Linked DNA regions of Homo sapiens: region 1 is reported to be linked to region 2. Evidence: microRNA targets listed by miRTarBase, many of them from high-throughput screens and not tested one by one. Region 2 holds a microRNA gene; the other region holds the end of a gene's coding sequence.
What was found. Region 2 holds the annotated microRNA hsa-miR-6844 (UUCUUUGUUUUUAAUUCACAG, at 2,671-2,691, opposite strand). A microRNA usually pairs through its seed, bases 2 to 8, with sites in the 3' UTR of a target mRNA and lowers its output. Matches are read on the target gene's strand: a 7mer-m8 pairs with bases 2 to 8, a 7mer-A1 pairs with bases 2 to 7 and ends in A, and an 8mer does both.

Region 1: the mRNA of TRAPPC13 is a reported target of hsa-miR-6844. The part of its 3' UTR that is shown has no 7-base or 8-base seed match.

The regions. Positions count from the first base shown.
Region 1 is chr5:65,664,151-65,668,150 of GRCh38, reverse strand. It overlaps TRAPPC13 (trafficking protein particle complex subunit 13), which reads right to left. Exons shown (of 13, transcript NM_024941.4): 12 at 3,767-3,914; 13 at 1,918-3,647. The coding sequence ends at 3,540. It overlaps SGTB (small glutamine rich tetratricopeptide repeat co-chaperone beta), which reads left to right. Exons shown (of 11, transcript NM_019072.3): 11 at 1-2,223. Among named protein-coding and RNA genes, the nearest start is that of TRAPPC13, 41 kb to the right of the region's middle.
Region 2 is chr8:124,505,845-124,510,385 of GRCh38, forward strand. It overlaps MIR6844 (microRNA 6844), which reads right to left and starts at 2,732; the gene lies at 2,671-2,732. It overlaps TATDN1 (TatD DNase domain containing 1), which reads right to left. Exons shown (of 12, transcript NM_032026.4): 7 at 2,759-2,844; 8 at 2,630-2,670.

The DNA.
Region 1 (4,000 bases), not on the chromosome of region 2:
GTGAAACCCACCTCTACTGAAAATACAAAAATTAGCCTGGCTTGGTGGCGGGCACCCGTAGTCCCAGCTACTTGGGAGGCTGAAGCATGAGAATTGCTCGAACCTGAGAGGCAGAGGTTGCAGTGAGCCAAGATTGCGCCACTGCACTCCAGCCTGGGTGACAGAGCAAGACTCCATTTCAAAAAAAAAAAAAAAAAGAAAAAGAGACTAAGAGACTAATTATTTTGTATCTTGAAGTTTAAAATCCAACTTTTCTCTTTCTCCTTTGTGACATTAGAACAGTAGTTCTATAACTTCATTGTAAGAATCACCTGGATAATTCATTAAAGATGCAGATTCAGGGCCACGTGTTCAATTCTGATACAGTAGGTCCTGTAATAAGGCCTAGGAATGGCCATTTTTAAACAGTACACTAGGTGGTTTTGATACAGATCCAAGGACTCTAATTTAGAGGAACACTAGGTTAGAGGTTTCTCAGACCTGCAAACACCTAAGCACCTGGGCCAAACAAAGCTACAACGAAGATCTGTATGAAGATATATAGTTCTGCAGAATTTAAAAAGAGCACAATTTAAGTCTTCGGCCCTCAGAAGTTAAATTCATATTCCATCTAAGCCAACTTTGATTTTCATTAAGTTAGAATGAACTCCTAGTATTCCAGTATTACACAGAACGAAGTACTACTACTAACACATAGAAGTCATTACTGTGATATAAAAAGCAAAATAGATCCTTAATTAAAAATTAGTCACTCATATTCAGTGTTGAATAAGAAGTTAAAGTTTCTAGCATAACTATCTTGAGTGCATTAAAAATGCTTTTAGAGCAATAAGATAAGCTTCTAGCTGACTGCCTAGAAAAACAGAAGATACAAATTCAGTGTCAGAAATGAAAGGGAATACACTACAGACACTATAGTTATTAAAAGGCTAACTAGAAAACACCATGACCAACTCAAGGATTGTATATTTAACAACTTAGATGAAACAGATTCCCTATAGGATACAAACTAGAAAGCTCACTGTAGAAACAGATAACCTAAACAGAACCATATTTATTAAGGAAATTGAGTTTGTGGTTAAGTTAAAAACCTTCCAGTAAAGAAAACTACAGGCCCAGATAACTTCCGTGATGAATTTTACCAAACACTTAAGGGAGAAATAATATCAATTCTAAACAATCTCTTCCAGGAAACAGAAGAGGAGGAAATACTTCCCAACTCATTTTATTTGACCAGTATTACCCAGACAAAGATACTATAAGAAAAAAAACTTTAAAACAATGTCTTCATGTGCTAACATCTGTAGTTAAATTAGCCATTCTTTTTACATGAAATAATGGGAATTGGTATATTTCTTCCATTTCATTTTTCTATTTCTTTGCTAATATACCACCTGTAACAAATTCAATCTAGATGCTATCTGTCCACTTGCCTACATTTCCATTCTATTCAAGCCATTTTTGCTCTTCAAGTACCTTGATCACTTTGGAATCATAGCATTGCAAGCTATTTCAAAAAAAGTTGCGTGGTTGGATTGTGCTAGCTACTTTTAAATTTATAAAAAATGCCCCATATATTTTCTTGCTTGTCTGGGAAATATAGTTGCTATCTAACTAGAAAAATAAGAGGGCATTATTAAAGTAACTCTTTAAGCATCGTACTAAATGTTTGACTTCCATTAACCATATTTCTTGTAGTAGCTGTAGCTATTATGATACTGTGTAAAACAGAACAGGTTCTATATATGCAAATGACATTTTCATTTAATGTACCAAATTGTGTATCTAACTTTTATAATATAGGTTAAACAGATCCTTTCTAAGATGGCATTATTTAATCTTTACTTAAAACTATGAAAAATATGTGTAAGTTATTGTTTATAAACAGAAGAGACTATAATTAAAATATAGAGCAGATTCCAAGTGACCATCATTTTACTTTTTAGATTTAAAACAGAATGAAACAGAAGATTTAGTCATAAGAAGATGCTTGAAAAACAATCCAAGTATCCAATGCAGTGGCTATAAAATATTATTTCATCATTTAATCTTAATCATTTTGAAACAAAGACAGACTTCAATTTTACACTGCTTGCACTTTATTTTGTACAGACATTTCATTAATTATTACTCAATTTTGAGGTGCAAACCTTCTGAATATAGCTTTCATTTTGGACCAAACAATTTGTTATGGCAATAAATAATGATGCATTGAAAAACCAATTTTTGTATTTGATTTAATGCACTCTTACATTTAAGAAATTATATATACATTCTTGAATTTCAACTTACCAAAATAGAATAGCTTTTATTTAACAGCCTAAGCTTTTGTTTTCCTGACAAATACTGAAACTTTTTGTTACATTAATGCTGCAAAGTTGTTTATCACCTCAACTTTCTCACTGCTTTGCTCATAACTAAGTGTGATTACATGGAGAGAGAAAGTTTTGTAACAGTAACACATGATTTAGAGTTTAAAATCATATCAGAAGATGGGAATTATTTAAATATACCTTATAAAAATAAGTGGCTTAATCAATGAGAAAAAAACCCAGGGGTTTTTGGCTTATAATTAGAAAATAAGTATTATTCTTAGTTAATAGTTAATTAAAAAAAATCAACAACCTAAAAAGTAAAACCAATTCTGATGTGTTCAGTAGCTGAAAGATATGTATGTTTGTAGGTATAATATACAAATACAGACACAAACCATTACAGTAATTTTGAAAACAACTAGAAAGCTTATACTGTGTTGACAAATATCAGGTTATAAGAGGACTACCCCCTTTGTTTTAAGCAAACTTTTTCTGCTGACCGAATAGCTAGGAAAAAACTGGAGTTAACTGAAATATTTCTAACCAAAATATTACAAAGTTCTAAGAAACAACTCTATCTTCTAGATTGAGGTCAGCCAACTATACCCTGCAGGCCAAATCTGCCCAGCTGCCTCTTTTTTTTTGAGACAGAGTCTCACTCTGTCGCTCAGGCTAGAGTGCAGTAGCATGATCTCGGCTTAACTGCAACCTCTGCCTCCCCGGTTCAAGTGATTCTCCTGCCTCAGCTTCCCGAGTCCAACTGCTTCTTTTTGTGTACACCACTGTACTTTTTTTGCCTACTGGCTGCTCTTGAAGTACGATGGCAGAGTTCAGTATTTGTGACAGAAACCTTACGGCCTGCAAAGCCTAAAATATTTAGTATCTTGTACCTTACATAAAAAGTGTGCTGACTCGTGTTCTAGATAACTTGCTAGGGACAAATGGTCTCAGATACACAGCTTTTGGAGAACAAAGTCCAATGGTCATCTAAAATGAAATGAAATTAAATAATAGGTGTAGAAAATATACACATGTTCATTTCAAATATAAATTACAAGATAAAATCAGATCTCTTCAAAACAAATATTTAATATTTTAACCATTTTACAGGAAAGAAAATTTAAGTAACATATTTACTTCGTTGTTGACGTCATCATTTTACAAAGGTAACAAAAAGAGCAGTTCTGTGAAACTAAATGAAAAGCCTAACATTGGAAGTTTCCTTCAGCTTTCCACTTTAATGGCAGAAGATACCACACAGACTTGTGCGATGTCATCATATTCATATGTTCTCTTTAAGAATGTGTCTGTTAGTCTTAAGCCAGAGATGCTCTATTGAGAGAGAGAGAGATGAGTCTAAGTTTTCATTCATTCAGAGGAAATACAGACATCACAAATGACTTGTAAGTTAACAGCACCCAAATATTGGAATTTTTGAAAAGACAGCATACTTGCAGTCCCTGTACTGAAGAAAGCAGAGTAAGGGCAAGACAGAGCGAAGAACTTGGATGCAGCTTTCCCAGCTGTCTTCCTGAAATTCCACACCAGTGGATGGAATTGGTATTGCACATTTCCAAAACCAGATCCATAGTCCTTTCACTGCTGGAGGAATCAGAATAATAGGAATAAATCTTGTTCATTTCACAAAGAGGTACTGCAATATTTCTACTAGTGACAGTAAACTT
Region 2 (4,541 bases):
CATTTCCAGCTGACTAGAAAAGATGCCCTCCATTAATATCGAAATCATTTTAAAAGTGACTCCTCATAAACCATTTCAGAAAACTAGTTATTAATTATTTGGCAATTTCTTTTTTGGTAAAAGTCAAACATTTAGGTTGGATTTGTTGTTGCTTTTGTTAATTTTAAAAACTATTAATAGAACCCAAGTAAATTCTTATTTAGAAATAGGCTGGGCACAGTGGCTCCCATCTGTAATCCCAGCACTTTGGGAGGCCGAGGCAGGTGGATCGCTTGAGGTCAGGAGTTCAAGACCCACCTGGCCAACATGATGAAACCCTGTCTCTACTGAAAATACAAAAATTAGCCAGGCGTGGTGGTGCGTGCCTGTAGCCCCAGCTACTCGGGAGGCTGAGGCAAAAGAATTGCTTGAACTTGGAAGACAGAAGTTGTGGTGAGCCAAGATCGTGCTATTGCACTCCAGCCTGGGTGACAGAGCAAGGCTCTGTCTCAAAAAAAAAAAAAAAAAAAAAAGAAAAAGAAAAAAAGAAAAGAAATAAAGCAAATGGGCTGAGAGGTAGAGTCTGAAGGTTAGGATAAATACCACTAATAATCCCAACGGCATTAGTTAAAACTAAAACCCCTCTCAATTCTTAAGTACAGTTCCTACAGGATAAATTACAGAGTAAGTAAAAACAGGAAAAAATTACAGAGTTAGTACAAACAGGAAAAAAGTGCACAGTAATATTAACATTACAGCAATGCAGGATGCATACATATTACTAGTAGTATAGATGAGGCAGAGGTTGAACTTAGAGAATACGCATAAAACTGTCAACGTCAGGCCGCATGGGAATGCAAGTGCTTGGTGCTATTTCCTCTTTCCTTAGCAGGCATAGTGTAACTGTGATTTAATCTACCTGGATTACAGTTCTTTTGCTAGACACAGTCACTCACTGAGTCACTCTCCTGAAATTGCATATGAATATATGTATATCTGAGCATTTTTCTAAGGCAGGTTTCCAAAGGAGTCCATGATCGAAGAGACTAAAAATCATGGCTGGGCAAGGTGGCTCATGCCTGTAATCCTAGCACTTTGGGAGGCTGATGGGGGGAGGATCATGAGGTCAAGAGATCGAGACCATCCTGGCCAACATGGTGAAACCCCGTCTCTACTAAAAATACAAAAATTAGCTGGACGTGGTGGTGTGCACCTGTAGTCCCAGGTACTTGGGAGGCTGAGGCAGGAGAATTGCTTGAACCCAGGTGACGGAGGTTGCAGTGAGCTGAGATTGTGCCACTCCACTCCAGCCTGGTGACAGAGCGAGACTCCATCTCAAAAAAAAAAAAATCACTGCCATAGATATCGGAGGTATGTGGTTAGCAGATAGTATTTATGGGAAATGTCTCCAGAATAATGACTAAAATGGCTATATCAGAGAAGTGTTTAGTGCAGAATGCAAATTACAGAAAGGAGAATGACTCTCTAGATCAGAATAGTAGGTGAATACAGCGGACAAGAAATGAGAAAGGCAAACCTAAAACAAATGGTAAAATATTTCAAAACATAAAAATTAGTTTATATTTGCTCAAAATTTGGATGGAAGAACATTAAAGAACAGCTGACAGAAGAGACGAAGAATATCATGCACAGCATTAGGATGTGTAGAATTCAAGGGCCAGGCACAGTGGCTCACACCTGTAATCCCAACACTTTGGGAAGCCAGGGTGGGCAGATTGCTTGAGTTTAGGAGTTCGAGATCAGCCTAGGCAACATAGTAAAACTTCATCTCTACAAAATATACAAAAAAATTAGCTGGCCATGGTGGCACATGCCTGTAGTCCCAGCTACTTGGGAGGCTGAGGATGGCTTGATCCCGGGGAAGCAGAGGTTGCAGTGAGCTGAGATTGTGCCACTGCACTTCAGCCTGGATGACAGAGCCAGACCCTTTCTTAATAACCAAAAAAAAAAAAAAACAAAAAACACACACAAAAAACAAAAAAAATTTCACAGGGTTTTCTTGTGAATGGAATTCTGTACGCATTCTTGTACTTTGAACAAAGGAACTGTAATTAAAACTGATTTGTGTTTATGCCACACCTGGTCCATAAATTCAACAGTAAATTTACATGTCTTTCAAAGGATGGGAAAAGAAGCTCCTAATTCTATTGAATTCTATCTAATTCCTATGTTTTTCTTTGTTATTCCTTTTTAAAAAAAATTTAAATGTTGACATCTGAATTAGGGGCCATCCTTAATAACCAAGATGCTTTGTGTGTCACATAAATGTTAAGTATCCCTTATCCCAAGTGTGTGGGACCAAAAGTGTTTCATATTTCAGATTTTTTCAGATTTTGGAATATCTGCATATACATAAAAAGAAATCTTTGGGAAGGGACTCAAGTCTAAACATGAAATTCATTTATGTTTCACATACACCTTATACCACACCCTGAAGGTAAATATTTTAAATAATTTTGTGCGTGAAACAAAATTTGTGTACAATGAATAATCAGAAAGCAAAGGTGTCATTATCTCATGCCAGTGCTTAAAAAGGTTCAGATTTTGGAGCATTTTGTACTTGGGAGTATTTTGGATTTTTGGATTAGAGATGTTCAACCTGTATTAAAAATGACTATTTTATACTTACCACTCCCCCTACACACCGATCTCTATTTCTTTTCATTATGTCTGTGAATTAAAAACAAAGAACTTTTAGCAAATAGCTTGATTTCTACAAAATTCTTAAGTTCTGAATGAGACTTTGGTTTTAACTCACCCAAAAATTCAGCATGTGAGTTTCGACAATGAAGAAACATTGGTAATTTTGTTTGTTCTGACAGTTCAAACTGTTTTTCAAAATATCTGCATAATGCAAAAAAAAAAAATTCTCATTACAAATTGTATTTTAGCATGAGGAAGGTAATGATGTCAAAAGAGCTTTTAAATTAAAGGTATTTAATTCTCTAGAAATTACAGGACAAAAATCATGAATATTTAAAGCACATCAGGCTTATCAAAGGGCTTTTATAACTTACAACTTCTGGAAAGAAATACTTCATTTTCTGGGCTTACAAAATTATCTGGGCCCTTTAATTTTCAGAAAGTAACACCACTGGCCCCTTGCCACTGGGAGCACCATCAGTGGGAGTCAACTCACCAAGCGAGAAGCCCAGGAGAGCTTCATACTGCATGCTAATCTATTCCATTTTGCAACCAGTTTTTTATGTGCTGTTATAAAAGAAGTTATTGCCACTGGGCAAAATGAACAAGGTTTCCCTCAAAAATGAAATCTAAGTATTTGCTAAACAGCAAATAACTCAATTATGCTATTAAAAAAAGAAAATTACATGATAAAGTGGTAGCCCTGAATATCTTAAAGAGTACTTGATAAGAAGGTTTTTCCAAGTACCAGATACCATTGTCTCATTTGATCCTCAAAATAACCTGAGTATAAAAGCTGGTGTCAGAGAGGTGTAGTACTTTGTCCAAGATAACAATACCTGGCATGGCCAACTTGGAACAGAACTTCACTGCTCTAATTCCAAGTCCCAGCCTAAACGACAAAAACCTGTTACGTTTTCAAGAAGCTTCCTTCTGGTCCCGGAGTATAATGACAATATTCAGAGGATACAACGAATGTTCATTCTGTTTGTCTTTTCACTTCAACACAGTGCTCCCCCTTGTTCTCACAAATGGTAGGTTCAACTGAATCAGGATAACAGGTGGCTTATTATTTTCTTAAATGTGCTTACCTCTTCTAAGCACTTTAATTTGGGGAAACAATTTCTCTGTTTAACTTAAGCCTCTCTTGCTATATTTTTCTATATCATATTTCCTGATGTGCAGGACTATTTTACCCCCTTTGCTCTCTTGAAAATGCTAAATTTTAAAATTAGAAATAGAAATGTACTTCTTAAGAAGCAGTCTTCAGGCCGGGCGTGGTGGCTCACACCTGTAATGCCAGCACTTTGGGAGGCCAAGGCGGGTGGATCACTCAAGGGCAGGAGTTCAAGACCAGCCTGGCCAGCATGGTGAAACCTCGTCTCTACTAAATATACAAAAATTAGCCGGCATGTTGGCACATGCCTGTAATCCCAGCTATTCGGCAGGCATGAGAATCTCTTGAACCCAGGGTCAGAGGTTGCAGTGAGCTGAGATTGTACCACTGCACTCCAGCCTGGGTGAGAGAGCAACATTCTGTCTCAAAAAAAAAAAAAAAAATTAAAAATTAAAAAAATAGAAATAGTCTTCCTAAAATAGGTCGTCTATGTCTGTATTACCAAATGTTTGGGTTTTAAAATCTCCTTTTCAGATTCTGCTGGGTTAGAATAAGCAAAAATATTTTCCTTTCATTAACAAAGTGCTGAAATTTTGCAGTGTAGGAAATATTAACGACAACTTGGACAAAAAGAGATTTTGATAATATAACCAGTCACTATTTCCATAACCTCTAAAGTAAACCAAATGTCAGCAGTTAAGTGTGCACTAGTCATTATGTCAACTTTACTAATATATTTGGCTCTGACTACACACAGCAGGCGGTACTCTTCATTGTGTGC